Homo sapiens: one gene and its partners. The protein of the gene in region 1 interacts with the protein of each later gene in a pairwise test. Each region holds a gene or a part of one and is shown in the gene's direction. Other genes may lie near its edges. The genes, in order: CEP70, ZFP91, TRIM42 and MAB21L2.

Region 1 (7,756 bases):
TAAATGTTTATTTTAAGCTGCTATGTTTTAGGGTAATTTTTATGTACCAATAGATAACTAATACACAGACATTAGCAATAACTAATACACAGTAAATAATTGCAAATTGTAATAAATGCATATACCAATCTGATGGTAAAGCAGATGTCTGTCACAAGAAGTGGTATGGTCAAGTGGTTAATGACATAGGCTTTGGAGCCTGAATGCCTAGGTTCAGATCCTGGCTTTGCCATATACTAGTGTGTGACCGTGGCAAATCATTTCAAAATTTTTTTGGCTTCTATTTCCTAACTTGCTCATTTGTAAAACAGATAATAACAGTACTTATATTAAGGTTGTTGCGAAGATTCAACAAGTTAGAAAATGAAAGTGCTTAGCTCGGAGCCTAGCACATTTTAAGTGCCCAATTAACATAACTATTGTTATTCTGTATGGATTATTGAGCATTTGTCATTAATATATTTGCCTCAGCTGTTTGCATATTGTCCTTCACATTGGAAAATGACTACTGAAGGTGAATGCTCTGAATAAATTTGACTCAAATTTAACAATGTAGTTCTGAAAGAAGAGAAAGACCCTCTCATATTATTTTATATTGTTTTATACTCAGTACCTGTTTTAAGAAAAAACAACAAGGAAGTAAAACCAAAGACAGGCAGCCCGGCGCCTGGCCCGAAACCAGGCCTGGGCCTGCCTGGCCTAAACCCAGTAGTTAAAAATCAACTCATAACTTAGAAACCGATGTTATTCATAGATTCCAGACATTGTATAGAAGAACATTGTGAAACTCCCTGCCCTGTTCTGTTTCTCTCTGACCACCAGTACATGCAGTCCCTGTCACATACCCCCTGCTTGCTCAAATCAATCACAACCCTTTCATGTGAAATCTTTAGTGTTGTGAGCCCTTAAAAGGGACAGACATTGTGCACTCAGGGAGCTCGGATTTTAAGGCAGTAGCTTGCTGATGCTCCCAGCTGAATAAAGCCCTTCCTTATACAACTCAGCGTCTGAGAGGTTTTGTCTGTGGTTAGTCCTGCTACAGTTCAAAGCTGTGTTTAGCACCTACTGTGCACCAAGGAAATATGCTAGCTGCAGGATGAAGTTTAGTAAGACATGGTTCATGTTCCCAGGGGTTCAAATTCTTGTGGAAAAGGCAGAAACAAATGTATTCATGTAATAAAGGAATCTAAGTCTAAAAAACTTATGAGTTGAAGAATCTTTGAGAATTCATCATGATTACCATTACATATGATATACTCATGTTTTTCTAGGGAGAAATATGACAGTTCTATACCCAGAAGAAAATTTGAGAATCAGTTTAGAAGTTGAGAAATTAGGCCGGGTGCAGTGGCTCACGCCTGTAATCCCAGCACTTTGGGAGGCCGAAGCAGGTGGATCACAAGGTCAAGAGATTGATACCATCCTGGCTAACACAGTGAAACCCCTAAAAATACCAAAAAAAAAAAAAAATTAGCCAGGCGTGGTGGCAGGCGCCTGTAGTCACAGCTACTCGGGAGGCTGAGGCAGGAGAATGGCGTGAACTGGGGGGTGGAGCTTGCAGTGAGCCACGATCACGCCACTGCACTATAGCCTGGGCAAGAGCGAGACTCCCGTCTCAAAAAAAAAAAAAAGAAGTTGAGAAATAAAAGATGTGTTTTAACTGCTAATGAAAGTTATAATTTATGCTAGGAAGCCAAAGTACAGAGGAAAGCAGAAAGCCGAAATGAAGACATGCTTGGCTTTCAACTTAAGTGTCACTTCATCAGAGAGGCTTCCTCCATAGCCCCTCTTCTCTTCTTTGATATCACTTATTATATTAATAATATATACTTAATTGCATTTGTTTCATATTTTCTCCGCAGTTAGACTATAAGATCCACGAAGGCAGGAATCACAACTGGGCTTACTTACTATTGTAAACTCCCCCACTTATAAATCTGACTCAGCATCTAGTTCAATCCCTGGTACAAAACAGGTGCTTAACAAAAAAATTTTTTTTTTTTTGAGACGGAGTTTTGCTCTTGTTGCCCAGGCTAGAGTGCAATGGTGAGATCTCGGCTCACCGCAACCTCCGCCTCCCGGGTTCAAGCGATTCTCCTGCCTCAGCCTCCTAAGTAGCTGGGATTACAGGCATGTGCCACCACACCCGGCCAATTTTGTATTTTTAGTAGAGATGGGGTTTCCCCATGTTGGCTAGGCTGTTGTCGAACTCCTGACCTCAGGTGATCCACCTACCTTGGCCTCCCAAAGTGCTGGGATTACAGGCGTGAGCCACTGTGCCCGGCCAACACATTTTTATAAATGAATGAATGTTAAATGAATGTTTAGAATTATTAGAATTCTATTGGGTAGATGAGGCCCATAGAAAACTCTTGAGACCAATGTAGCAGGATTCTCAGTGAAAGACTAAGTTTGTGTGCAGGGATGTTTTCCTTCTCTAGCAAAGAGAGGTGCTGGAAAGGCTTTCATGGTCCATAAGAAGGGAATTGTTTTGGAGGGCAGTGCTATAGCAACTCTTCCCCTCCATTCACCACATAAAAAATTCAGTTAGAAAATAGAGAGGAATCAGCCTTCTTGTGCTTTGAAGACTGTGAAAGATACTGGTGATCATCCATCTAGCATCCATTTTCCTCTTCTCCTTTACAGGTCTCCAGTTTTATTCAAATAGCCATGTCTCCACCTTGCAACTCATGTGACTCAAAGAGCACTGACACCATTGCCAATTCCAATTGTCATAGCTCCTTTTCACTTCTGGAACCCAGGCTTAAGCTGTCTGTACATTTCCCAGGCAGTTACTGGTAAAGAGGAAGAGTGTGTGCCTGTGTGAACTTATTGGCTCAAAAAACCAGAAGGAAAGGTTTTAGATGAAAAAGAAAGTATGTGGTCCTGATTTCTCCAAGTAGACATCTGGAAAATCACGTTAGTATGAATTTGAAGTCTACCCTTTTTTTTTTTTACAACAAAGCAGAGACTAATAGCAACTGGGTCCTTGTTAACTTGCTTAGCCACTGAATTAATCAAAGTCTCCCTTGCCTCTGAGCTTTCTGTTATGCGAGATAAGCAACTTCTTTATTTTTTAGGAAGACAGTTTAACTCAGATTCTATATCACGTGCATCCAAAATAATAATAACTGACTCAAAGATGTTTGGCCTCTACAATTAGGGCAGCCATTCTCAGAAGAGTATGCAAGGGCACCCTATTATCTTGGAAAAGGGAAGCACTGAGACTATTTGCATTTTGAGAACTGAAAATGCAATCTGCTAACCGTCGTTAGAGTGAATATCCAGGTATGGAAAGCACAGTGGGTAGGCGTAGGTTGGGGTAGGGACATGTTTGCATGGGGCAAACACAGAGATCAAACCTAAGTGTAGTCCCAGCTGCCTGGAAGAAGGCTAAGAAGGGTCTGAAAGTATTGAGCTCCAAGAGCCCTTGGATCTCCTGATGAGAGACCCTTGGCTGATGCCCTAGATGGGACATCCCTGTTGGCTACTGTGGGACCTGCATCATTTGACTGCAACACAGTCTGTTGCAACATTTGACTGTAACACAGACCTACATCATTTGACTGATTTGAAAAGACAAGTTGTCAACAGCGACACCATGTGGCTATAAGATACAATGACAATGGTGGACAGCTACAGCCTCAGGTAGGGCCTGACGCTTCGTCGAGATGTGGAAAATGCTGAATGGGAAGATGAACTGTCGTCAACAAATATTTATTGGGGTCCTCCAAATGTCAGCTGCTACAGTGGTCATTCAGGTCTGGAACATCGAGAACATGCTGACCCGTACCCCAGCAAGGGCTCGTAGTCGCGGCGGGGTAGGGGGCGAGAGAGAGGGCAGTCTCTGGTGGCCAGGTAACCCAGGCTTCACTTTCACCCACGGCCACAAGTATTTCTGACGTCTTCCGGGCAAATAAGCCTCCATGTAAGTGACAGGGCACCCAAGGAGTGCGTTGGAAGCGCCAGCGTGCCCGAGACCAGCACATCGCACCGACGCCTTCGTTTGCGGTAAGCCCCGCCCCCCGTAGTGAGCCAACCGGAGGGAGCGGGGCGGACCCAGCTTCCCGGAGAGGCTGGAGAGAATCGTTTGGGGGCATTCGCAGGCCAAAGAGGGGCTGGCCCTCGACGCGCTCGGGCTCGATTGGCCGCCCTCCCCCGGCGGTGGTAACGGTCGCGGAGGCGGGGCCTGACGTAGCTGATCCCAGCCTAACCTGGCCCGGCTGGCTGCTGGTGGGAGGCCGGCGACTGAGTAAGGTGAGTGGCTCTCGGGGCTCTCAGAGGCGTCGGCGTGAGCCCCTTCCCGGAGTACCCCGGACTTGACCTCACCTGGGCCTAAAAGTGGTCAGACTGACCCTTGTCGGGGAGGAGCCATCTGGGACAGGGTCGCGCCAATTAAAAATCCCTGCGTAAGGGTTTGGGGATCGGACAAAACTGCCTCCAGTCCCAGCTCCCCAGGCTTTGTGTTCTTTGGCTTCTCCTTTAATGTCTCAGCGCCTCCGATTCTTTATTTGTATACTAAAGCTGGTAATTCTTGCCTTACAAGGTGGTTGTGAGGGTTAAATGAGGCAGTAAGAGTAAAGCTTAGAATCACGTCGGGCACAGACTCGATTTAAGCTGTAGGTAATTACTCCATCCCCCAAAATCGACCCGGGCTGAAGCGCTAGTTTTGTGTCAAACAACCGCGAAGGTTGTTTGGGGAGTGAGGACTCGGAGCAGAAGGGGGCGGTTAGGCGAATAGCACAGGTGAGTATCTCTTTCTCCAGTTTATTAACCTCATTCCGGATTCAGGAGACCTCTGACTTTATACAGGGCCTAATAGGAGTTTTTCAAGGTGAAAAATGCCAGAAGGCTAAGTCACCTGTAACAGAGAGACCAATCAGAGTTTCCTTTTTTACTGCCACTTTGTTTTTCAATCAATGATATTAAACAGGCAGGGCGCAGTGGCTTACGCCTGTAATCTCAGCACTTTGGGAGGCCGAGGTGGGCGGATCCCCTGAGGTCAGGAGTTCGAGACCACCCTGGCCAACATGATGAAACCACGTCTCTACTAAAAATACAAAAATTAGCTGGGCATGGTGGTGTGCGCCTGTAATCCCAGCTACTCGGGCGGGTGAGGCAGCAGAATCGCTTGAACTCGGGAGGCGGAGGTTGCTGTGAGCCGAGATCGCGCCACTGCACTCCAGCCTGGGTGACGGAGCGAGACTCTGTCTCAAAAATATATGTATAATATATTAAACTCTGTGCAGGCATTACCCATATTGGTTTCAAGCCTCTGCATGAGTTTTGTACTTTAAATATTGCCAAGTAGACTCTGGCCTCCCCTGCCCCGCCTTTTGGGGAAGAGGTGGCTGACTTGGAGTTTTCCCTACAGCTTTTGCTTCAAAGCAAGGTTCTGCCCCTTCATGTCACCTCTCCTGAGACAGAATGATTTGGTTGAGATGACATTCCATTTTAACTCTTTCCTATTTGGGGTAAGTTCAGCTCTTTCTTAGGAACATTAAACAGCAAGTTGCAATATTTTTAGAATAGAGCTTTTGCATTTAATAAGGAATAGAGACTTCGAAAGGGTTACATGTTCATTTATTGCAGTAATTTGAAGTATATACTTTTGAAGATGCTTACAGATTTTGGTGTGATTCAGTTGAGAAGGAACAGTTATTGGCCATGGTTTATTGTCAGCTCCCCTCCCCCACCCCAAATGGTGAAAAAAATAATTAAATTTTAAGATATGGAGCATGTTACAAGGGGCTTCAGACCTATAAAGGGCAATTTGGCTGAAAGACTCGGGAAACCTAGAAAGTGCCAGAAGATGCAATTATGTTTTTGCTTTTCTATGCTTGGCTTACTATGCCATGTACAAATCAACTCCTACCCTCCGACTCCTACCCCCCGACTCCTACCCCCAACAATCTTATTTTAAGTGTGTTATGACAGTAATTAAAGCTGTAGCTTCTGTTTTGGCCCTAGAAAGCATTTGGTCTCTTCCTGTGACTTTAAAGTTCCAGACCTTTGTCCTGTCACAGCCTGTAGTGGGGAAAAGGCTGCTGCAAACTATTGGCCCGTTTATTTCACAGAATGGTCCTCTGAAAAGGAGGGCTTGGTCACAGGTGCAAATGAGGAGTAGTTTTGTTCCTGTGTTTGCTTTTGTGATCAGTGGTAGTTTGTCTGAGGATGCTTCATTTTAGTATCCTTGCAAATGAGAATATCCTACCTGTGGAGCCAGAAGTCAGAATTGATGATAGATGATGATAGATTTGGATACCCAGCTAAATGTCTTAACAAGGTAGGGAGAGGAAAGATAAGAAGGAGAGAGAAGAGAAGGGAAGAGGCATATGATGGTGAGCTGGGAAGGCCATTAGCAGTTATTTCAGTTGTGCCTGCTTTATCTGTGATTACCAGTACCTTGGATGCCTGCTCTGGGAGTAACACAAGACCATTCTTACTAGGAGGTTGAACATTTCAAGATTTTGTTCTTTTTATCTTTTTGAAACCTAGATGAAGATCCAGTTTCAGACATGAGACTCGTTGGGTGATCATTTCATTGAGATCAACCTGAATGACCAGGTGTAAAGTGCAAGAGTAATATGCTATGACTGAGGTATGTCTAATGTAACGGATGACTCCAGATGTTGGGAGGCCATGGAAAAAAATCTAATATTTATTGAGTACTATACTAGGTTCATTACATATATTTCCTTTTGACTTCCTGATAATCCTATCAGGTAGATATTTTACAACTCAGCAAAGAAGCTGAAGCTCAGAGAGGTTAAATACCTACTTAAGATAACACAGAAAGCTGATCACCAACTCTAATCACAGTCTCCATCCTGCTGTGTGCCAGACAATGCTTTATGTTCTTTCTATATTAACTCTTCTAATCTTTAACTCGTGAGCTGAGTACTTTTATTATCCTTATTTTATGATGAGGAAATTGAAGCACACAGAGATTAGTACTGTACTCTCCTGGCTGTGTGGCAGAATCCATGATTTGAACCCAGGCAGTCTGGCTACAGAGCTCTGCAGGTTGAGTATCCCTTACCTGCAATGCTTGGAACTATGTTTTGGACTTTTAGATTAAAAAAAAAATTGGAATATTTGTATATACATGAGGTATCTTGTTTAGAGTTGGGTAACTCTAAACACAAAATTCATTTATTGTTTCATATACAGCTTATACACACAGCCTGAAGCTAATTTTATACATTTTTAATAGTTTTATGCATGAAATGAAGTTGTGACTGTGACCTGTCACATAAGGTCAGGTGTGGAATTTTCTACTTGTGGTGTCAAGTTGGTGCTCAAAAAGTTTTGGATTTTGGAGCATTTTGGATTTCAAATATTCATATTAGGAACGTTCAACCCGTACCAGCTTTATTTTGGTTAGGTTAGCATTTCCTTTACTTTTCTATTTTTTGTTATTTAACAAAATCTTTTTAGCGTAAAATGAAATTTTTGTTATAAATCACATACCAAATGTATAGCTTAATAAATTATTACAGGACCATACCATTCAGGTATGCCAGATCCCCTCCATTACCCTATCCCAGTCAAAACTCCTGTGTTCCCATTTAGTCACCATTCTTCTGGGTTTTATAGTTTTGTAGTAATCACTTCCCTGTTTTTTTTTTATTATTTATTTATGAGATAGAGTCTCATTCTGTTGTCCAGGCTGGAGTGCAGTGGCACGATCTCAGCTGTCTGCAACCTCTGTCTCCTGGGTTCAAGTGATTCTCCTGCCTCAGCCTCCTAAGTA
Region 2 (7,727 bases), on another chromosome or scaffold:
TGGCTTTGAGTATTTTGAGGTATGGTGCATGCCTCTAATCCCAGCTATACTCGGGAGGCTGAGGCAGGAGAATTGCTTGAACCTAGGAGGCGATGATTGCGGTGAGCCAAGATTGCGCCGTTGCACTCCAGCCTGGGCAACAAGAGTGAAACTCTGTCTCAAAAAAAAAGAAAAGAAAAAACAGCGTAGATTGCCTTGAAGAGATGGTCAACAGAAATATGAGTGTTAAAGGCAGTCTGATGAGGCCTTAGAAGGAAATGATGAACATGTTATTGGACAGTGGAGAAAAGGTGATCCTTGTTATAAAGTTGCAGAGAACTTGACTGAATTGTGTTCTATCATTGGGTAAGCAATGAACTTGGATATTTATCTGAGTAGATTTACAAACAACGTGTAGAAGGTATAGCCTTGTTTCTTCTTGCTTATATACTAATGTGTGAGAGGAAAGATATAAATTGAGGAATGAATTGTTTAGCAAAAAGGAGCCAGCACTTGATAATTTGAAAATTTTTTAGTCTGTCCAAATAGTGTATTGTGGTACAGGACCAAGGCTGTGACTGGACAGCTATTCTCTAAAGAGACTTGGTATATAACTTGTGGATCGAATCAGCCATCTCAGCACTTCCCAGAATAGACATGCAATTTTTCAGGAAAGATCTGTGGAGGACTCTCATTTGGTGGCTTCGACCCCCTGAATTTCATGAAAGACTGACAAAGTTTTTGAGAATGTTGTGACAGCAGAAACACTGCCAGGCTGGCCTGAATGGGACAGAGACAGAATGGAATTAAAGAAGAATGATGCTGAGGGTAGAGCTGCAAATGCTGGGTCCTGGGTGTATTAGACTTCCTGGGGCCACGATGGCAGGGCTATTTCCCCAGTGGACTCAGAGTACAAACCATTATCCACAAAAGCTTATTCTTAGGGCTTAAAGTCTAATGCTTTTCGCTAGGTTTTGGACTAACTTGGGACCCCTGACCCTTTTTCCCCCCTTCTATTTTCTTCCTTTTGATATGGAGATGTGTAATCTATAAGTGTCCCACCATTGTTTTTTGGAATCAGCTCCACAGATGGAGAAGAATTTTGCTCTAGAGTGGACCATACCCCCAGTCTCATTCATAACTGATCTAGATGATGAGATTTGATCCCTTTTGAGTTGATGATTTTTAGGTATTGTTTGGATTTAGACTTGATACTGGAATGGGTTAAGACTCTGGGAGGTTGGGATTAGGTGAATGTATTTTGCACATTGGAAGGACATAAATTTTAGGGAACCAGAAGGTACAGACTACTACGGGTTGAATTTTATCCCTCCAAAAATGTGTTGAGTCCTAGCCCTTAATACCTGTAAATATGAACTTATTTGGAAATAGGATCTTTGCAGATGTAATCAAGTTATAATGGAGTTATTCTGTATTACAATGGGCCCTAATCCACTATGACTGATGTCCTTATAAGAATAAGGACATCACACATGGGACAGGAGGAAACACCGTGTGATGATGGAGATAGAATTGAAGTTAGCAGCTATAAGCCAAGTTGTTGACCACCACCAAAAGCTAGGAAGAGGCAAGGAATGATTCTTCTCAGAGTCTGAGAGGGAGTGTGGTCTGTTATTGTGTTGATTTTGGACTTTTATCCTCCAGAAGTATGGGAGAATAGATTTCTGTTGTTTTAAGACATCCCAGTTTGTTGTGATTGGTAGAGCAGCCCTGGTAGACTAATACATTATTTCAGCTCTCTCTTGCTTACTATTCGCATGTAATATCTTAATCCATTCTTTTACTTTGAACCTGTTTGTGTCTTTGGATCTAAAGCAAACTTGTCCACTATGGCCTGCAGTCTGAATGCGGCTCAGAACGGCTTTGAATGTGTCCCAACACAAAATCGTAAACTTTCTTAACACATTATGAGTTCTTTTTTAAATTTTTTTATCTTATCAGCTATCATTAGTGTATTTTATGTGTGGCCCAAGACATGTCATCTCCTTCCAGTGTGGCCCAGGGAAGCCAAAAGATTGGACAACCAGGTCTAACGTGAGTTTCTTGTAGACAGATTGTAGATTGGTTGTATTTTTTGTTAATCCATTCTGCTAATATGTACCTTTTAATTCCACACTATATGTATGTGTAAACTACCGATAAGAATGGCCTGCCATTTTGCTTTGTGTTTTCTACCTGTCTTAATATCTTTTATTTTGATCTTTATTTTCTTTGTATTTCCTTGTGTTGCAGATATATAGCAGTGTACCATCTTCTCTTTTCATTTTCTGTATATTTTTATTTTCTTAGGGGTTACCTGGGGATTGCATTTAGTACTTTAAACTTTATCTAGTTTAATGCCAGTTTAGCTTCAGTAGTAAACATATCTCTGCTCTGTACTATTCTGTGCCTCACCATTTATGTTATTGTTGCAAAGTGTATGTTTTGATGTCAAATGCCCATTAACATAAATTTACAGTTGCTATTTTGTACATTTGTCTTTCAAATCATGTAGGGAGAAAAAGGAGTTAGAAATCAAAAGTACAATATCATATTTTTGCCTCTGTAAAATATGCCAGTGTTTTAATTTATGGCTTTAAGTGCTCTCTAGTGTCCTTTAATTTCATCTTAGAGGATTCCTGATAGCATTTTTTATAGGGCAGATCTACTAGTGATAATCTGTTTTTGATTTTCTGGTAATGTCTTAATTTCATCTTCGTTTTTAAAGAATAGTTTCGGCAGCTATAGAATTCTTGCTTGACGATTTTTTTTTTTCCTTTCATCACTTTGTTATCACACTGCCTTCTGACTTCCATGGTTTCTGATGAGCGGCTGTTAATCTTGTTGAGTATTCCTTGTTGCTTATGAGTCACTTCTTGCTGTTTTTATGGTTCTTTGTATTTGTCTTTCTACCGATTGATAATAATGTGTCTAGGTGGGGATCTCTTTCATTTATCCTACTAGGAGTTAGGTAAAGTTCTTGTTTGTACAGACTATATTCCCCAATAGTTTTTCAAATATTCTTTCTGTTCATTTTCTCCTCTCCTTCTGCAAATCTTATTATGCATCTGTTGGCATGCTTAATGGTTGTCTAAACGATCTCTTAGGCTTTATTTTCCTTTATTCTTTTTTTCTTTATATTCTTCATACTGGATCATCTCTGTTGGCCTAGCTTAAAGTTCACTGATTCTTGTTTTTCAAGTCTGCGGTGAATTTTTAATTTCAGTTATTATACTTCTCAGCTCTAGAATTTTTTTCTCTTAGTTCCTTTTTTGTGGGGGGGGTGTGGTTTCACTCTTGTCGCCTATGCTGGAGTGCAATGGTGTTATCTCGGCTCACTGCACCCTCCACCTCCTGGGTTCAAGTGATTCTCCTACCTCAGCCTCCCAAGTAGCTGAGAATACAGGGATGCGCTGCTACAAGCAGCCCAGCTAATTTTTGTATTTTTAGTAGAGACGGGGTTTTGCCATGTTGGCCAGGCTGGTCTCGAACTCCTGACCTCAGGTGATCCGCCCACCTTGGCCCTCCAGAGTGCTGGGATTACAGGTGTGAGCCACTGTACCCGGCCTCTCTTGGTTCCTTTTTATAGTTATCTTTTTATTGGTATTCTGTATTTGTCGAGACATATTTCTTCTGATTTCCTTTAGTACTTTGTCAGTGATTTTCTTTAGCTCTGATTGTCTTTAGTTCTTTAAACATTGTTTTTTACAACTTTTATTTTAGATTCGGGGGTACATGTGCAGGTTTGTTACTGGGGCATATTGTATGATATGAAATTTAGGATACAAATGATCCCATCATGCAGGTACTGAGCATAGTACCCAATAGTTTTTCAACCTCCCCCCAATAATCTCCAGTTTCTGTTGTTGCCATCTTTATGTCCATGAGTACCTAATGTTTAGCTCCTACTTTGGTCTCTGTGGTCTCTAAAGGTTCTGGTCCTTTCGCTTATATTCATCAAGTGATTTGACAGATTTCCTTAAACATCTTTACTCACCTTTTTCTTGATTCAGTGCTCACTTGGCTTTTATAACCTTTAACTATTGTTAAGAGTTTCCACAAAGTTGATTCTGACAGTGTTTGTTCATGATATGTGTTTATTTCTGTGGAGGGACATTTTTGCTGTCATCTCTGACAGAGTGGTTTTTTTTTAAGACTAGATTTTTAGGGGACGGGAGCAGTAGTATTCAATAAGATAGGCTATTATGCCTTATTCATAATGGTAAACTATTGTTATCAAATTGGCATCATTTATCCAGTGAGTAAAATCTACAGTATAGGAGGTTGTGGGCATACCATCCTTTCATCATGAAGAAGAAAGGAGCTTTGTTGAGGACAGGAGGTTATGGAGTGAGTTCAAAGTCCAACTCGGTACAGTTGGGTTAAGGAAAAAAAAGATGTGTCTATTATTAAATGTTGTAATACTTCATAGGTGGTGTTGAATTGTTCTTTTTGATGAAATTGTTTTAAAAGTAGTCATGACCTATATGTAAAAGTCCTTCATTATTAATCTCAAAATATGATTTCTAAATCTAGGTGTCCTTAGCTAACCTTGTGATTTTGAATAAGCTTCTTTTTTGGGCTTCCAGATACTTTATGGGTAAAACGTAATGGATTGTGCTTAGACTGAATGGCCTTTGAGGTATTTTCACCTATATTAATGTTTTATTTTTTATTTTTTCTATTAAAATAGCTCAGATAGGAGGGTGATGCAATAATGAATGGAAAAAGACAGCTGAAAGGAAATGCACAACTGATTTTGATGGTTGTTTAGAACTGTTCGCACTGCTATTTATCTCTGTGTTTCAAACTAATTTCATTACTTCAGTATATTGTCATAAAACTTTCAGTGTAATTAAAGCTAAAATAGCCTATAGTCACCACATTGCTCCATAGTAAACTATTTTTTAATGTTAAGCAAAAATGTTGCCATACTGTATATATAGTTTTGTGTCTTTTTTATACATTTAACAATATTTTTGCTGATAATTCCATGTCATTTTTAACATAAACCTACCTCTATATAGTATTCAATCATACTAAGGTATCATGGTTTATTTAAGCACTTTATCTTTGACAGAGGGTTAGGTTGTTTCTGTTCTTTGCTATTATAAACATAATACAGTTAACCTCCATGTGGTAGTTTATATTTCTAGGGCATATACTTAAAGGTGAAATTACTACACATATTTTTGGACCTACCTTGGAAGTAACCAGTACTTAAGAATTTCTTGTACTTCTTCCAGAAATGTTATTATAGTATGTAAGATATATATATATACACACACACACACATACTGTAATGACTAATGTGTAGCACTGTTTTTAAGTAGTAGAAGAGTAGACAACTAAACATTCAAAGGGGGATTGGTTTCATAAGTTATATATTTGTGTGTATATATATCTTACATATATATCTCTCTCTTACATATGTACACAATTATTTGTGAAACCAATCCCTCTTTGAATGTTGTTTTCTACTCTTCTACTACTTAAAAACAGTGCTATATGTTAATCATTTATAAATATGATTGTAATTTTGTAGGATAAATTTCTAGTAGTTGAACATCATGTGGAAAGGTATATACATTTATAATTTTGATGTATATTGTCAAATTGGTCTGCATGGAGGTTTTGCTAATACATTATCATATGTGTGTTAGAGGACCTGTTTTCCCACAGTCTTGACAATACATTATGTTGTCAAATATGATCATCCCCAATATGATACATGAAAAATGGTGTCATGCTATCGTTTTCATTTGAGTCTCTTGTTCTGAGTGGATTGAGCTTTGAGCTTTTGTTTTTTGTTTTTTCTTTTTTTGGAATGGAGTCTTGCTCTTTCGCCGAGGCTGGAGTGCAGTGGCGCAGTCTCAGCTCACTGCAACCTCCACCTCCCGGGTTCAAGTGATTCTCCTGCCTCAGCCTCCCCAGTAGCTGGGATTGCAGTTAGGCACCACGACGCCTGGCTACCTTTTGTATTTTTGGTAGAGACGGGGTTTCACCACGTTGGCCAGGCTGGTCACAAACGCCTGACCTTTTGATCTGCCCGCCTTGGCCACTCAAAGTGCTGGGATTACAGGTGTGAGCCACTGAGCCCGGCCTGTTAGTTCCTATTTTTCTATTGGGTTATTAGACTTTGTTTATGGTTGATTTTTGCCATGAGGAAAATTGTTTTTATGTGTATCTTATGACCTGAAATTTTGTTTTATTATTGGGCCTTTCCCGTTCTGAGTTTATTAAAGAATCTTCTATTGTTAAAATGGGCTCAATTCTAATGTACTTTTTTTTTATATAGGTCTAAGTATTTAGCTACGCCAGGTATGAAAGCCAGTTTCTGAGATTAACTTTTTATTACTTACTACTCAAGAGAGGATGACCTACCGTACTTCACCCTTAAAACATGACAAAATATAGGATAACAATAACAGATTTGTGTGTGCTCCTGTACACAATGTCTTATAGGACAACTGAAACAGAATAGCACCAGAGCTGGACTTTACCATTCAATTGCTCTATAGATTAGTTCAAATTTATGGTGTGGTTCCAAGAAAAACTCTTGATTAGAGTGAAAAGTACTCCTGTTAGGAATTCCTCTTTAGTAATTTGTTATAGACTTGTTTGGTTGTAAATAACATCTAGATCTATGGTTCTTTCTTTTTGGTGCCTCTGTAGTTCTGGTCATCTTTTTGGGACTAATTAATTTAGTTTCTTTTAACTTAGATCTAAAAGGTAGAATTTCATGAATCCAGTTACTTAAGTGTATTTTGCATAGTTAGCATTGCATTTTTTAGAAGATAAGGCAGTATAAAATTACTACTTTGCAACATGAAGTAATTTCTTTAGCATGATGACATTAAGGATAAGTTTTATCTCATTTTCCTTTTTTTATTATTTCAATTAAAGTCTTCAGTTTTTTTTCCTTTGAAAATATTTAATTTATCTTCAACTGTATTTACAATTAGTAGATATACAGGGATGGTTATTGGTTAACTGTAAACTTAAAGAGAATGGTATGTCTTTTTATTTAGATCCCAAGGAAGAAAAAGAGGAAGAAGACGATTCTGCCCTCCCTCAGGAAGTTTCCATTGCTGCATCTAGACCTAGCCGGGGCTGGCGTAGTAGTAGGACATCTGTTTCTCGCCATCGTGATACAGAGAACACCCGAAGCTCTCGGTCCAAGACCGGTTCATTGCAGCTCATTTGCAAGTCAGAACCAAATACAGACCAACTTGATTATGGTACAGTGCAACTAGAATATGGCTGTTTACTAACTAGTTGCTGTTACATTTTAAATGTAATGTTGAACATTTGTGTTAACAGCTTAACTGTCAGGGGCAGGTTTGATGGTGTAGGTGGTATTTCTTTGAACAGTTTGCAGATATTCTGCTTTTGTATAATTACCCCATGCAGTAATTTGATTTGCATTTCTTGACTGCAGAGAGAAAATATCTTATATCTACACTAATAAAATTTTGTTTTTGGCTTTGTTTTTCTAGATGTTGGAGAAGAGCATCAGTCTCCAGGTGGCATTAGGTAAAAAAAACATTAATATTTCATTTTTAAACCTTTGGGGACATAGCATAGTCACAGTAAATGATTCAGAAGTTGCTTCCATTTGAAATTATTTTGAGCTGTAAGAGAAATTAACTTCAGTTTTGATACTGCATTTAGATTCCATGTTGAGCTTGATTAGAACTTAAACCATGTAATCTACTTACATAGCTTAGAAATCATGTCTTGAGTAT
Region 3 (7,727 bases), 2.1 Mb from region 1:
TGATCGCCTACTCCAAGGAAGCCCTGAAGGAGACTGGCCAGGTGGCATTCCTGCAGTCAGCCAAGATCCTGGTGGACCAGATCGAGGACGGCATCCAGACCACCTACAGGCCTGACCCACAGCTCCGGCTGCACTCAATAAACTACGTGCCCTTGGACTTTGTTGAGCTTTCCAGTGCCATCCATGAGCTCTTCCCCACAGGGCCCAAGAAGGTACGCTCCTCAGGGGACTCCCTGCCCTCCCCCTACCCCGTGCACTCAGAAACAATGATTGCCAGGAAGGTCACTTTCAGCACCCACAGCCTCGGCAACCAGCACATATACCAGCGAAGCTCCTCCATGTTGTCCTTCAGCAACACTGACAAGAAGGCCAAGGTGGGTCTGGAGGCCTGTGGGAGAGCCCAGTCAGCCACCCCCGCCAAACCCACAGACGGCCTCTACACCTACTGGAGTGCTGGAGCAGACAGCCAGTCTGTACAGAACAGCAGCAGCTTCCACAACTGGTACTCATTCAACGATGGCTCTGTGAAGACCCCAGGCCCAATTGTTATCTACCAGACTCTGGTGTACCCAAGAGCTGCCAAGGTAAGAAAGGTTCTGGGCCCAGTGGGGAAGTGGGAGGGTGTGGGGCACAGAGTAGAAGTGAGTAGTCAGGAAAGGTTGCACTTACCTCTTTGACCTCTAGGATCTGGTCACTCATATCTGCTCCTCTAGACTCTTTGTGGTCATCCCATTCAAAAGGGATAAGCTCCTGGAATCTTAAGTAACCCAAAATTAGCTTAAACCAAACAGTCAATATATTTAACTCATAATCGTAAATATATCTGAAAGCCCTACCTCCACTGCAAAGGCAGCTTCTCAACTGAAAGAGAACCCAATTTGGGAACCAAAGTAATTTGAAGACACTACTTGGCAGTGTAATGTTTCCCAAAGGAAAGCCTGTAATAGAGACAGCACAGAAATTGTACTTAGAAATGCAGGCTCCATTACCTATCAGCTGTTTCCGTTAAATTGCTGCCTTTCCTAAAGCAAATATCCAGAATCTCTATGATTTGGAAAAATTGGGAGGATCATCCCCAATGAAATTTCAACTCTTCTGAGATTCAACCCGCCTTGAAGGGAGAGAGTGAAGAGTGGGGTCTGTCACAGACCTCTGTAAGTGCCATTGCCTGGCCTCAAGGGACATGACTTCCCTTTGACCCTCTTGACCTAACATGGACAACATGAACAAATGGGCTTTTCTTTAACATACCTTTCAAATCTAGCTGAACCCACACGGAATTGTTTGTAGAACACTTTATTAAGGTTTATGGAGGAAAAAAATTAACATGCAACTAAATATTCTATTAGAGTGCCTCTTTCCTCCTCTTGGATTTTTCCTACAGTCAACCCATGGCCTGCTCCCATGTGGCAGAGCTCATATTTTGTCTCCCATAATCTGAGAACACTCCCAAAGACTTTCAGATCCTTGAGTTCTCAAACATTGATGTGCACCTGGGGATCTTGTTAAAATGCAGATTCTATTTTAGTAGGTTTCAAAGGGGCCTGAGATTCTGGTTCTCACAAACTTCCAGGTACTGCCAATGCTGCTGTCTACAGACTACACTTTAGTATTAAGGATCTAACAAATGAAGGCCAGATACAGACCAAGATTTACTTTTCCATTCTCCTGACGCATCACAATCTATGTTTTATTGTCTATAATTAACACAAAGAACAACCCATACTTTGCAAGTTAGAACACTCCATGAGCTATCGACATGATGAAGTGTTTCTGCCCTTCACATAAGCAATGCCCATAACTGAGCAGCTGAACTACATTTCCAATTGATACTAGATCAGCAAGGCCTATCGTGTATGCTTATTACCTCAAGTATAGCACTGGGTCTCATCTCCTTGACCAACTGAGACCTCTTGAGAAGTTGGCAGGATCTTGCTCTGGAGTCAGAGGATTGCTAGTATCTGCTCTATACCTGGGCATGGAAAATAGTCACCCCATGCCACCTATTAGTCATCCCTGATGAGCTCAAAAAAGAGACCTACGCAAAACAACTCAGTCAAGTCATTTGCTGTCGAAAGAGGACACCTAAACCTACTGCCAGACAGTGATATTTGATTTTAAAATATCATCGATTCATATTTTAGGATAATGGAATGGACTTCATACAGGAATCATAGTGCTTAGCAATGCAGAAGATTAAGTTTATGTTAACATCACTCTCAAATCTTTAGGATTTTAGCATAGAAAATATTCTGAAACTTAGTGTTGTACCTTTTCAATATGTATTGTTAATATCATAGAGATTTTTTAAACTCAGTTTTAGTTCTAGGAATCTCTTCCAAGAAAATTATTAAAAATTCAGACAAATATTTATGCCCAACAGTATTTATTACAGCATTTATTTATTAGAGTATAAAATTAGAAACAACATAAATGTTCAACAATAGAAGGATTAAATTATTTTGGGAGAAATTTCAAAGATGGTAGTTTACTGAATTTTTAATGATTTAGGAAAACATACAACATAAGTAAAAGAAAATAGAAATCAAAGCTACTTAATCCAAGTTTTTATGTATATATATATATATATATATATATATATATATATATATATATATATATATATATGTTTGTATGTGTGTGTGTGTTCTGAAATTGCAAAGAAATAATAATGAATTAACTGAATTGTGATATTATGAGTGATGTTTATTTTCTTCCCCTCTATTTTTCGGTATTTTTCAAGCAGGAGGACAATTGTCACCTCCATGTCGACTGACAGTAACAGAACGGAAACCTTCTGTTTGTGAAACTCATTACAACCATCATGCCAGGCCTCATCACACAGTCTTCCAAGACTTGTGCATGGTCTAATTAAAAGTCTTCGGTAGCTACAGGGGATGGGGTCAGCTTAAACTCACCCCACAGATAGTCAACATCACAAATCTTTAAGGGAAAGAAAGCTGAATGATGTATACTAGTACCACACCAGTATGTTCATTTCTTCCATAGGTTTACTGGACATGTCCAGCAGAAGACGTGGACTCTTTTGAGATGGAATTCTATGAAGTCATTACTTCTCCTCCTAACAACGTACAAATGGAGCTCTGTGGACAAATTCGGGACATAATGCAGCAAAATCTGGAGCTGCACAACCTGACCCCCAACACAGAATACGTGTTTAAAGTTAGAGCCATCAATGATAATGGTCCTGGGCAATGGAGTGATATCTGCAAGGTATTGTGTGCGTTATTTCTCAGACAGATTTTTTTTTCTATGGTAGGTTCTGGATGAGGCCCTGTTAAGATGATCGTGAGATTATAGAACTCACTATGGGACTCTTCCTCTAAGCACAGAACATTTGTTAACTTGAGGCCAAAGAGAGGGCTGCTGGCCTCAACCAGACTTTGCAGATGTCGCCTGAGAATTGTTCTATTTGATTCAAAAACATTTGTTCTAGGCATTGTGTACAGATGTAGAGATTCAGAGGAAAATAAACATAATCCCTGCCTTCAAGGTGCTCAGGGTCTAGTAAACAAATAATTGTTGTGTGAGAAGGACATGAAATAATTGTGGTACGAGAAAGATAAAAATGAGGTGCTATTCCCAGGCAAGGATGGGGTGCCAGATTTAACTAATGAAAATACAGGATGCCCAGTTAAATTTGAATTTCTGGCACACAATAATTTTTATAAAATATGTCCAGTGCAATATTTAGAACCTATTTATACTAAAAACAATTGTTCATCTGAAAGTCGAGAAACTGCCACTAAGCAGGTCAGTGTGCCTTCCAAAAAAGAAAGGACAAAGTTATTCCTATCTTCTTTGTGATCCAAGACTTACTCTTCTTTATATCTCCAGGGAATACACATTCATGAGTATAATTTTATTGATATTAAAAGGAGAAAGAGAATAAAAATACCAAGACTGCCTAGAGCTGCTATCTTACCATATAACCATAAGGGTGTTCTTTGGAATCAGGGTCGATTACATCTTAATCAGGAATTCTTTAGAAGAAGAAGAAAAAAAAAAAGTCCATTCATTTCAGCTTTTGAAAAGAGAAATTTATGACAAAGATACAGGAAGTCTCATGAGACCACTTCTAGGATATGCATCTGATCTGATACCCAAGGGAACTGGAGAGTCATCAGTTTCTCTCCCTCTCCCTCTTTCTCTTCTCTTCCTCTCTCCCTGCTTCCTTCTCTCTCTCACTCTCTCATTCTCTTTGCTTCTCTCTGGATCTGCACCATTTTTGGCTAGCCCTTAGTTTCTGCTCCCTTAAATTCAGCTTGTATATGGTTTTGAATTGTCATGGCCCAACCCCTGTGTGACCTTAAAGCTCCAATGCCCAACAGCATCTGACCAACCATACTCTGTTTCCTTAGTAAAATGTTCGAGGAAAAGAATCCGAGTGGTTGCTACCTCTAGTAATAAAGGCAAAGCAGGAGTAAGGGTGGTCAGTATACCAATAGCAAATCTCCTAGGGTGGGACCACTCATCCTGGTTGCCAGCCCCAGGGGGACATGCTTTACCTCATAGAGTCCAGCACCCATGGACACACACACACATACACATACACACACACACACACACACACACACACACACAGAGAGAGATAGAGAGAGAGAGAGAGAGAGGTCAAACCTGGCACAGGAAGGATGTGAGATGGGGAAGCCTGCTAGCCACTCCTCCTGCCAGCCTCCAGCCAATTACACTGCTGCTCAGTTGCCCCAAAGCCCTTCTCATTCTTGATACCCTTCTCTTCAGAGCATGGAATGCCCGTGGCTGCCCCACATCCGCATGTCTCTTGACTATGGATTTTTCCTTCCATCTAATCTCATCTGCCTTCTCAGTTTTTAGGAATTCCTCAAAACTGTCTTGCCCATGAAGGGCACTCAGTACTGTTGCTAAAATATATGTAATCTATTATTTTCAGATGCCAGGGAAAGAACGGGTGGAGATACCAAAGTATGTCATCAGTCTACCATCTCAGTCCCTCTTGGCTTTTCTTAGGTAGAGGCTTTTGTTGCCCTTCTGAAATTATGGACTCCTTGAGAATAAAATTCACATCTAATTCATGGTTCTTTCTCCCACAGTGCTTACCACAGCACTTTGCATATAGCTGGTTCTTAATAGTTATTGAATGAGTATATGAGTGAAAATGTGACCAAATAAATGAACAAATAAGGAATGTCTAAATTAAAGAGTGAAGAAATAAATTGATAAAATTAATAATTACAAAGTACCGTAAGATGCCTGAAAGCTGTTAAGTGTTTTATACAGTCAAAAAATAGCATTTCCCTTGAAATTGTGTTTATGTGATTAATTTGCCCTCCCTGTAAGAGAAGGAAATGCATTCCAGTCCCTTTCTTTTTAACACAATATCTAAATGAGCAGAGCCCTAATTAATGAGGTTTTCTGAAAGCTTCATTTTTATCTGACTTGAGGAGCTGCAATATAGATTTTTCCTTCAGAAGTAATTCTTCCTCCCTTCTTTGTGGTTATATTAGCATTCCAGAGGAAACACTGGTTTCCTTAACATTTGTCATGATTTGCATAAGTAAAGCCTTCAATACCAAATGAAAATAAGATGTGTGTTTGAATGACATTTATAAAGTTTCATAAAAGTAATGACTTCATTTCTTACCTATAAAATCAAAATTTTTTCCTTGGCATCAGTTCTATGCAGGTATTCCTGAAAGGTTTCACTTAAAATGTTGCAATGAGGCAGCAGGATCATTTCTTATCCAAAATGCAATATTTCTATCACACGTATTTTTGTTTTAAAAAGTGAAATAACACCTTTTATATTTTATTTGCATAGTCTAGGACTTGATTTTTAAGAGATTTATTTGGTGTGTAATACATGCAGCAAGAAAATTAACTTTAATGATTTTGAAAGGTCCCATTTGAAGGTCATTTTTATGTCAGATGGGGTATATTCATTATCACTAATCATCCCAACCACTGGGAAAGGAGGAAGTGATTGCTTCCATTTTACAGATAAGAAAAATGAGGCTGTAAGAAGCAAAGTGTCTTCCATTTTACAGATAAGAAAAATGAGGCCTCATAGAAGGATGAGTTGAGTGGACACCTTGGTCTGTATCCAAGCCCACAGTCCTTTGTTCCCCTGCACCATGCTCAAATGGAACTAAGTCTGGAACAGGGTAGGCTCAGCCCTGGGGACATAGTACTTTACTCTGGGAGAATGATGTCAAAGCCAACAGCAGGGAGAGCTGAACTTTTATTTTTTGAAAGTCAAGATTACGCATTGAAAAGAGCATTGTATTTGGTCTTGTGTACCTGGATTCAAGTCCCAACTCCACTAGGCTCAGGTCCATGAGGATAGGTGTTGGTCTTACACACCCTTCTGTGCCCATGGTCCCTAGCTGAAAGCTTCTAACATCAAAGAGCCTAATTAATATTTTTGAAGGGTAGAGAAATGTGTTTTTAGGTAAGTCATGTACGTGTTGACCTCAGTTTCTTCCCCTGCTCTTCCTCTGGTCCTCAATATATCTGTTGACCATCATACCCATTTCTGAAAACAGTCTCCTTACTTTGACTCACTGTCTCCCTCTGACTTTATATCTCAGCTGACTTCCATGAAAGCTTCCCATGACAAATCTAACTGCCTATCTGTGTATTAGTTTCCTATTGTTGTTGTAACAAATTAGTAGTTTAAATAATACAAATTATTTATTTCCTTACAATTCTGAAGAAGTCCAAATGGGTCTCACTGGGTAAAATCTGTGTCAGCCATATTGCATTCCTTCTGAAGGGCCTGAGGGAGAATACATTTCCTTGCTTTTTCCAGCTTCTAGAAGCCACCCGCATTCCTTGCCTCATGCCCCTTCCTGAATCTTCAAAGCCAGCAACATTGGGCTGAGTTTTCACACTAGCATCTCTCTGGTTCTGTTCCACCTCCATCTTCCACCTTGAAGGTCCCTTGTGACTGCTTTGAGCCCACCTGATAATTCAGGCTAGTCTCCCTACCTGAAGACCAGCTGGGCCAGGTGCAGTGGCTCACACCTGTAATCCCACCACTTTGGGAGGCTGAGGGAGGAGAATCTCTTGAAGCCAGGAGTTTGAGACCAGACTGGGCAACATGGCAAAATCCTGTCTCTACTAAAAATTAAAAAAAAGTCAGCTGGGTGTGGTGGTGTGCGCTTGTCATCCCAGCTACTTGGGAGGCTGAGGCACGAGACTCGCTTAAGTCTGGGAGGCAGAGGTTGCAGTGGGCCAAGATCAAGCCACTGCACTCCAGCCTGGGTGACAGAGTGAGACTCCATGTCAAAAAAATAAAAAAAGACCAGCTGACTAGCAACCTTAATTCCCCTTTGCTATGTGTGTAACCTAACATATTCAAAGGTTCTGGGATTGGGACATGGACATCTCTGGGGTCCATTATTCTGTCTACCACAATCTGTAAAGTGGATGTCCTAGGTTACATCAGACTTGGAGGTAAAAATTCAAGCCCAACAATAGTTACAAATTGGTAATTTTCTGGGTCTTTCCCTGTTAGCTCTTCAGGAAATGCAGCAACCCCTGTCCCCAACCATCCTCTCAAAGCCCTTCTCAGTCTGCACTGAGAGTCATCCTCGGTGTCTGATGGGGCTGAGGAAGTAGTCCTGCCAGCTGCCCTGAGTCTCTGCAGTGCTGCTGTCTTCCTATTCGGCCTGTGCTCCTGCTGAAACCCCAGCCACACAGCAGGACTGCCTGGCCATCATGAA
Region 4 (7,904 bases), on another chromosome or scaffold:
AAATAAAACAGTTTAAGAATTTTGTATTCTCTGGAAACATAAACAGGATTATAACTGTCAGATTACAGAAGCACTGACTTCAGCCATTAGTTTGGTTTGGCTCCTGAGAAACACAACATGAACTACTGCATCATTTCTTTTCAAATCCATACATTCCCTGCAGCCGTTCAAGCTTCATCAGCAGTGCAGGAATGTATAAAAATGACAGGCAAAGGGCATTAGGTTTTTTTACTTCCATACTGTTTTCCTATAAATGGAAGACAGGATTCTTTCTCAAAGCACTTAAGCTCAAGCTCAGTCAATGCTGAAGGAAAAATACAACTGAATTCTCTATGCAAGAAAGTATCACAATTGGATTATTTACTACTTTTCAAGGACATGTTGATAAATCTAATACTGTATTATTATCTTAGAATAAAACATTGTAAGGTTAGCATTCTAGCTTAATTACCCATTATTCTTCAATTAGAAATATTTTCACTTTTTAAAGTACTCTGTCAACTCATCACCTTATTTTAACACCAAGTATTCAGTTTTGCTTCTAATTTTAATTATAAAAATTTCCTTAAAATATGCCAATTTTTTTTGAAAATATATTTGTATAAATAGTTAATTTTTTATTTCCAAGTTTCTGTACTCATAAAGGTTTCGGTGAAATAGGAAATTCCATTAATAATTAAAAGTTTATTTAACCATGATAAGTAAAAATAGGATGTAATGAGTAATCTGGTTATTTGACTGGACCTTAAACATTCACATTGCTATAAAACTAGTACCGTAATTACTACAACCTGACTCAATTTTTTGAAGAAACTGGGAAATTTTCAGACTAAAGTTTTAAACATCCTCATATTTTAGTTTATAGTAACTAAAAACATGCCCACTTCAGTACTATCACCTACATTCTTTATGTTCCTAATGTAATGATGCAAGAGGTAAAGCCTAGAGAAGTCTGAAGGTTACGGACTACCTGATATCCAAAACAAAAAATTCAGATCACACCCTGAATGTCCTCCTTCCCTTTTTAGGAATGTCCTGCAGCTAGCCCAGCACCACAGCTCTGGGCTGAAGCATGCCAATGTTGGCACTGCCTAAGCCAAACAAACAAGATGTTTAACAGTCAAATAAAATGTCCTGCAGCCTCCCTAATGAATTTGTCAAGGACCATCAGATTTCGCACCCCCTCCTTTGCCTCATTAACTCAAGTATGATGAGACGGATTATAACAAGAGAATACAGATGAATCGGTCTGAAGACTTGAAGTGGCTTTTAGCCTCTAGAGTTTCTTTCTCTCACTTGGTCTCCTTTAATAGAATATAGTATCTCCTGCAGAAGGAGCTGCCAGTTCGTTTTAATACACCATCAAGGAGCTGCTGATGGACTTCTATACTAACATACATAAAAGCAGAGGTGACAGGGGCTCTTCAATTACAGCCTCCTCGGATACCGTTTCCCCCTTCAATTATTCAACCAGAGGAAGAGAGGACCGCAAAGGCGCAGCTGAAGCTGCTCTTAGAGCAGAGGCAGCCAGAGTGAGTTGGGGTGGGGGAGGGGGGAGAAAGAGAACCAGCAAGAGGGAGCATTATTTGCTGGAAGTGTTTAAGTTTATTGCTCGAATGATGTTTCTAATTAGTACCACGGCCATAAATTAAAGTCGCCTTTGTTTAACTGATTTATTATTTACTAGAGCATCTACCTAAGACAGGGTAAATTGGTAATGAATTGTTTTTAAATCAAAACATTTGTAACGTTTTATCATCCTTCCCTCTGTATGTAAAAGTGGAGAAGCGTAGGGGCAAGGATGCGAGAAAACTTAGCCGAGCTTGACAGAGCCGCCAGTGGAGGTGCAGCGGAGTGTCCGGCGAGTGGTGGCGCGAAGGTCCGCTCGGCCTGGGACGCCCCACCCGAGAGAAGAGGAGAAGGCGCAGGACTTGCGGCGCGGCGGCGGAGCCATGCGAACCAACTCCGCCACCCCTGAGGCTGTTTGCAAACACTCACTCTCGGGAGCGTCGCGGGCCGGGCCATTCGCGAACCAGACGCAACGACGAAGCGACCACCTCGAGAGTGGGGCGGGAAAGCTCCGCACCCTCTATCCCCGCCACCAGTCTCCGCCCAGTAACTGCCCCCGGAGAAGCAACCACGGAGCCCCTCCCGGCCAGTCGCGCTCTCCCGGCAGCGCAGTGCCCTCCGGCCCAGGCAGTTCCCAGAGCGCCGGCAAGGCCTCCCGGGTTAGAGCCGGGCTCCCACAGGCGCGAACTCCGAGGGCGCGAGGTCCCCTAGATCCTTAGGCGGCGAGGCGTTCCGGGACGCACGCGGCCTCCCCGGAGAAGGCTGGAGGTCAAGCAGCCCAAGTCTCTGCCACTCCAGAGAAGTTAACTAAAGCTCTGGAGTCCAAGAGTCGCGCGGACACTTAATTCTGACTCTTCTTCCTAATCGCGGGAAGACAAACCCTAAGCAACAAATCCGAGATAGTTTTTTTTTAAGCAAATATTCCTTAGAAAGGGACTTATGGCAACGAGAGAGGAAGGGTGACAAACTGCCTGTGGTCCGCACCAGGTATGTAAGAAAGAACCAAGAGGCCCAATTGTCTGATACCAAGTAGATAGAAAGAAATTAACTTCCCTATGCAATTCAATTCAGGTTCACCCGGCCGGACTTTAAGAGGGTAAGTCAAGCCCTCCCAAGGGGTTTTGAAAAAGCCGAACTACCAGGTTTCTAAAACGAAGTCTTCACCCAAATGGACGCATAGATTTTTATTTTTATCGCATAACCCAGGGCTGGAATATAACCTCCCAAATCAAACTAAAAATAATCACATCTACCTGAAATACGTTAAAAAGATTCAGAATCCAGACATCTTAGGTTCATACATAAACCCTCAGTATCAAGCAAATCAGAAACAATGTTCTAGCTTTTTTTTTCACCCAAAAGTATGGAAAGGCTACAGTGGGTACAACTCGTTTAGGATAATACATATACTAAAAGCACATGCATGCCTTTCATTGAAATGCCTAGGGAGGAGTGAAGCCATCTGTGTAATCAATAACAGGATAGTTATAGATTTTTGTGGCAGTGAAGTCTTTTAAAAGCAAGAGTCAATTATGAAAATAAAATCATTTTACAAATGAAACTCTGTACCTGTACCCCCTAAGAATACATTCACAATTAGATTTACAACAGTAAGATTTTAAGAAAACTTTAGGTTTACATTTACTTGCCTTGTTTTTCATTAAGTTTGAAGCAATTTTAGTAGCTTATTTTAAAAGTATATCCTACTAAGTTCTACGACATGTAAGTTTGCACCATTTCTCACAACTTAGATATTTTCTCTCTCGTAACTAGTTAATTCTTGTAACGATAAAATAATGGTATTAAATACATGTGAATCTTAATTATGAAATAATTATCAAACAAGGTGCTTGGACTAGTTTTTGCCCTGCCCTGTTTTTAAACAGCATATCGAAATTACTAAAAAGAGATTTATAAACCCTCACCTTATATCCACTCCAACCCTCACTGGTGCACATATACAGCAACTGCTCTGATTCTTGGCAACAATGGGAGGGGAGGGGAAGAGAAAGGAGGATGACTTTAAAGGAGGAAAAAACCTGGAAAAATTAGGTCCTTTCCCAGATTCCCCTTTCGCTTCCCATTTGCCTTCAAGCCAAAGTAATTTTGTTACAGTTTGCACCTTCTACTACACAATGTTGATAGAATCATTTAAAAAAAAAAAAAGTGAACCTTTCTGAACCATTGCTACTCTCCCTCGCGTTATTCCAGCCATCTCCAGGAGAGTCCCTTCTATATAAACTCTTTTTCTTCTTTGCTACTGATAAGAGAGGAGGATAAAGAGGAACGGCTGTAAAATGTGTGCAAGCATTTGACTCCCATTATCTCCTCCTATTTTCTTACTTCTCTCTTTACCCTGTTTCTTTATCAAGTGCAGTGGTGGCTGCTACCGTTCGCCAAGCGTGCCTGTCTTCTCTCTCGGATTGGCTAAAGCACTGACAGCTCGGATAGCGATTGTAGGAACTGAAGCTCCACCCCCTCATGATGGCCCTGGGACCATTCATAAACTAAATAACTCCAGGAAACAGCGAGGGAGAGAGAGAAAGAAAGAGAGAGGGAGAGAGAGAGACAGAGAGAGTTAGAGGAAAGAAGAGAGAGCGAGCACGAGGAAGGGGGGCGGGGGAGAGAAGCAGGGGGAGAGCGGGGCGAGAAAGAGGTCGGAGGGGAGAGGAGGGGGAGAGACGACTCAGAAAGTGGAATCTGTAAAAGCAAGCTAGAGGAGAAGAAGGAAAACCCTGAATCGTTATAACTACACCCCAGATGCAACGCAAGCAACGACTTCGTCACACTAAAACGGATTTTGTGAGGGCCAAAAGTATAAATTACGAAGCAGAAATGATTATCAAACAACTTCCAGCGGTTTGCACCTAAAGAAACACAAGGAGAACCCACTACAAACAAACAAACCCAGTCCAAACAACGCCTCCAGTAGGAAAAGAGGAAAACTGCGATAACACGACCCCCCGAGAAGAGACGAGACCAACACGCTGAGACTGTGGGGCGTCAGCAAACCTCCAAGTGCACGGCGGACTGAGTTGTACTTCGCAGCTCTCTGGACATTAATTACCTCCTGCACCTTCCATTTGGGGGAGGGTGAGGAAGAAGGCACTCACCTACACTGAGCGAAGAAGTCCTATCAGCGTGGAAGAGAAGTTTAAGAATGAACCACTGAATGTTTCGCTTTTATTTTTAAATTTACTTTGGCACTTAAAAAACCTCATTTCCAGATTTCTGGACAATCTCGGCTGCAGACATCTAAGCCTAACCTTTTGGTATCCTGAGTTTTTTCCCTCTCCTTCTCCTTCCTCACGCCCACCCCGCTTCTCTCGCACACGGTCATCTTTACATATCAAGAGAAAGCAAAAAGGTTCCAAGAGGTACTTTTCTTTTTAGAAAATCACCTTTTCTCCCCTAATTCTTCTGCAGAAGAAAAGAGGTTTCGAAAGAGGGAAAAGGAAAAAACAAGCCGGCTACGGTATCAGCCGGTCAGCCCAGGTGGAAAACGAGAGTGAAAGTAGGGCTTAACGGGGAGCGCACCGCCTCTTTCGAAAGCCGCTGGGCCACCACCAGTGCGTGAGCCTTGGATCCCTCAACGTATTGCGAGACGCCGGTGTATAGCCCGGACCTGTGCCCCAACATGATCGCCGCTCAGGCCAAGCTGGTTTACCAGCTCAATAAGTACTACACTGAGCGCTGTCAGGCGCGCAAGGCGGCCATCGCCAAAACCATCCGAGAGGTCTGTAAGGTGGTCTCGGACGTGCTCAAGGAAGTGGAGGTGCAGGAGCCTCGCTTCATCAGCTCCTTGAGCGAGATCGATGCCCGCTACGAGGGGCTCGAGGTCATTTCGCCCACCGAATTTGAGGTGGTGCTCTACCTAAACCAGATGGGCGTCTTCAACTTCGTGGACGACGGCTCGCTGCCCGGCTGCGCAGTGCTCAAACTGAGCGATGGGCGGAAGCGGAGCATGTCTCTCTGGGTCGAGTTCATCACGGCGTCGGGCTATCTCTCAGCGCGTAAGATCCGCTCGCGTTTCCAGACGCTGGTGGCCCAGGCGGTGGACAAGTGCAGCTATCGGGATGTGGTCAAGATGATCGCGGACACCAGCGAGGTCAAGTTGCGCATCAGGGAGCGCTATGTGGTGCAAATCACTCCGGCGTTCAAGTGCACCGGGATCTGGCCTCGCAGCGCGGCACAGTGGCCTATGCCCCACATCCCTTGGCCCGGCCCCAATCGGGTGGCCGAGGTCAAGGCCGAAGGGTTCAACTTGCTCTCGAAGGAGTGCTACTCGCTGACCGGCAAGCAGAGCTCGGCAGAGAGCGACGCCTGGGTGCTACAGTTCGGGGAGGCGGAGAACCGCCTGCTGATGGGCGGCTGCCGAAACAAGTGCCTCTCAGTGCTGAAGACTCTGCGGGACCGCCACCTGGAGCTACCCGGCCAGCCGCTCAACAACTACCACATGAAGACGCTGCTGCTGTACGAGTGCGAGAAACACCCACGAGAAACGGACTGGGACGAGTCGTGCCTGGGCGACCGGCTCAACGGCATCCTGCTGCAGCTCATCTCCTGCCTGCAGTGCCGCCGCTGCCCTCACTACTTTCTGCCCAACCTCGACCTCTTTCAGGGCAAGCCCCATTCGGCCCTGGAGAGCGCTGCCAAGCAGACCTGGAGGTTGGCCAGGGAAATTCTCACCAATCCCAAAAGCCTGGACAAACTATAGGGTGCTGGGGACTGCTTGAAAAGCGACACAAACGGGCGTGCTCTCTCAGACACACAACTCTGCTATAAACAGCAGAAACTCTGGACACAAACTTTTATGTAAGTCACCTGAAATAGGAATCCGGCAGAAGACCTTCATTAATTAAGAAGCAAACAAAAAGAGAGCAACCCAACCAAAACAAATCACATTCTTGCACAAAAGTGATCGTTTTCTTCCAAACAATGTGAATTTAAAAGGTCACACAAAAGAAGCAATCGGGCTCCGCCACCACAAAATGAAACCCAAGGTACATTTTCAAATCAATGTATAGTAGTTCCCCCCCCTTTTCCTTCTTTCCCCCTATCCTTTTTCTCTCCACCCCATCCCCCCCCCCATTTCGTTTTGCTTTTGGTTGCCTGAATGTTGTCACCAAGTGAAAAAATTATTTAACTATATGTAAAATTTCTCTTTTAAAAAAAAGTTTTACTGATGTTAAACGTTCTCAGTGCCAATGTCAGACTGTGCTCCTCCCTCTCCTGAACCTCTACCCTCACCCTGAGCTGTCTTGTTGAAAACAGTAATAAAAACATTACTTTACATTGTAATTGACTGTTTGTGGATTGTTCTTAAGTGAAGGCAGGTGAGATCACAGTTTATAATTTCCAATGTAAAGATGTGACGAGGAATCAAATGCAAGAAGCTTCCACTTGAACTGATTTGCAAAATTTTAAATACAGTACATTTTGTAGAATTGACTGTATAAGTTCCGACCCAAATCCTTAGAAAATAGAAAACACTAATTTTACTCAACTATAATATATATTTGTTCTGTAGATGTTAAGATTAAAAGTAACATCTACTTCACGCTTGGGAAAAAAGTATGAAAGAAAATATTTTGATCCTAATTTTTAAAATAGAAAAAACTTTTTCACATTAAAAATTAAGAGATGTGCTTTCTTATGCCATAATTTCAAAAAATCCAATCTGAATCCGATATACAAAGGAAATATTTATGGATTTTTCTGAATAGTTAACAAAGTCAGTTGATACTTTTCCTTCAACCGTTTGTCCTCTTCAAGCTTTGAGTGATAAAAATTTAACAATTAAATAAACCACAACAAAAAATACAATGGTTATAGCAATAATCCTCTCCCCAAGCATATGGTGATATGAACCATTCAGATTTATAAATTACTTCCATTTTAAAATGGCTTAGTTGTAAATTCCATAAGTATGATTATTTTAATCAAATTTCAAGAATTATTCTGAAACTGCTTATATGCAATTCAAACAAAAAAGGTTTTCATACCATTTTTATAACCAAAGAAAAATTATTATTCCAGGATTTAGAAATAGGAAAAGTACCTTCCTCCTCTTTCTGTTTTTCTAAGGTAACAAACCAATATACTCATTTCAATGTTTCAGCTTTAACAAAGGTTTCTTTTTAATGCAAGGGAATAACTGATTAGAAAATAATATAATTAGTCAAACAGAAAGTATCCCAAAGGAATTGGTTTGTCTTGCTTATGTTGAAGGTAACTATATACTCCATTCGCTATGCTAATGATGAGACACAGGTACAGAATATATGTCAGATGTTACCCTTTAATATCTAACATTTATTCTTTGTATTAGCCCA

Evidence for each region.
Region 2: the proteins of CEP70 (region 1) and ZFP91 interact in binary tests that used the Homo sapiens proteins (3 or more experiments, as listed by UniProt).
Region 3: the proteins of CEP70 (region 1) and TRIM42 interact in binary tests that used the Homo sapiens proteins (3 or more experiments, as listed by UniProt).
Region 4: the proteins of CEP70 (region 1) and MAB21L2 interact in binary tests that used the Homo sapiens proteins (3 or more experiments, as listed by UniProt).

What each region holds. Positions count from the first base shown.
Region 1 is NC_000003.12:138,590,699-138,598,454, reverse strand, and holds the start of CEP70 (centrosomal protein of 70 kDa), read left to right. Parts: upstream 1-4,194; 5' UTR 4,195-4,257; exon of another isoform or gene 4,258-4,746; intron 4,747-6,498; 5' UTR 6,499-6,592; coding exon of another isoform or gene 6,593-6,601; intron 6,602-7,756.
Region 2 is NC_000011.10:58,602,820-58,610,546, forward strand, and holds part of ZFP91 (E3 ubiquitin-protein ligase ZFP91), read left to right. Parts: intron 1-7,010; coding exon 7,011-7,220; intron 7,221-7,478; coding exon 7,479-7,515; intron 7,516-7,727. UniProt on the Homo sapiens protein: Atypical E3 ubiquitin-protein ligase that mediates 'Lys-63'-linked ubiquitination of MAP3K14/NIK, leading to stabilize and activate MAP3K14/NIK. It thereby acts as an activator of the non-canonical NF-kappa-B2/NFKB2 pathway.
Region 3 is NC_000003.12:140,687,959-140,695,685, forward strand, and holds part of TRIM42 (tripartite motif-containing protein 42), read left to right. Parts: coding exon 1-584; intron 585-3,009; coding exon 3,010-3,234; intron 3,235-7,727.
Region 4 is NC_000004.12:150,577,824-150,585,727, forward strand, and holds MAB21L2 (protein mab-21-like 2), read left to right. Parts: upstream 1-4,327; 5' UTR 4,328-5,206; coding exon 5,207-6,286; 3' UTR 6,287-6,870; downstream 6,871-7,904. UniProt on the Homo sapiens protein: Required for several aspects of embryonic development including normal development of the eye.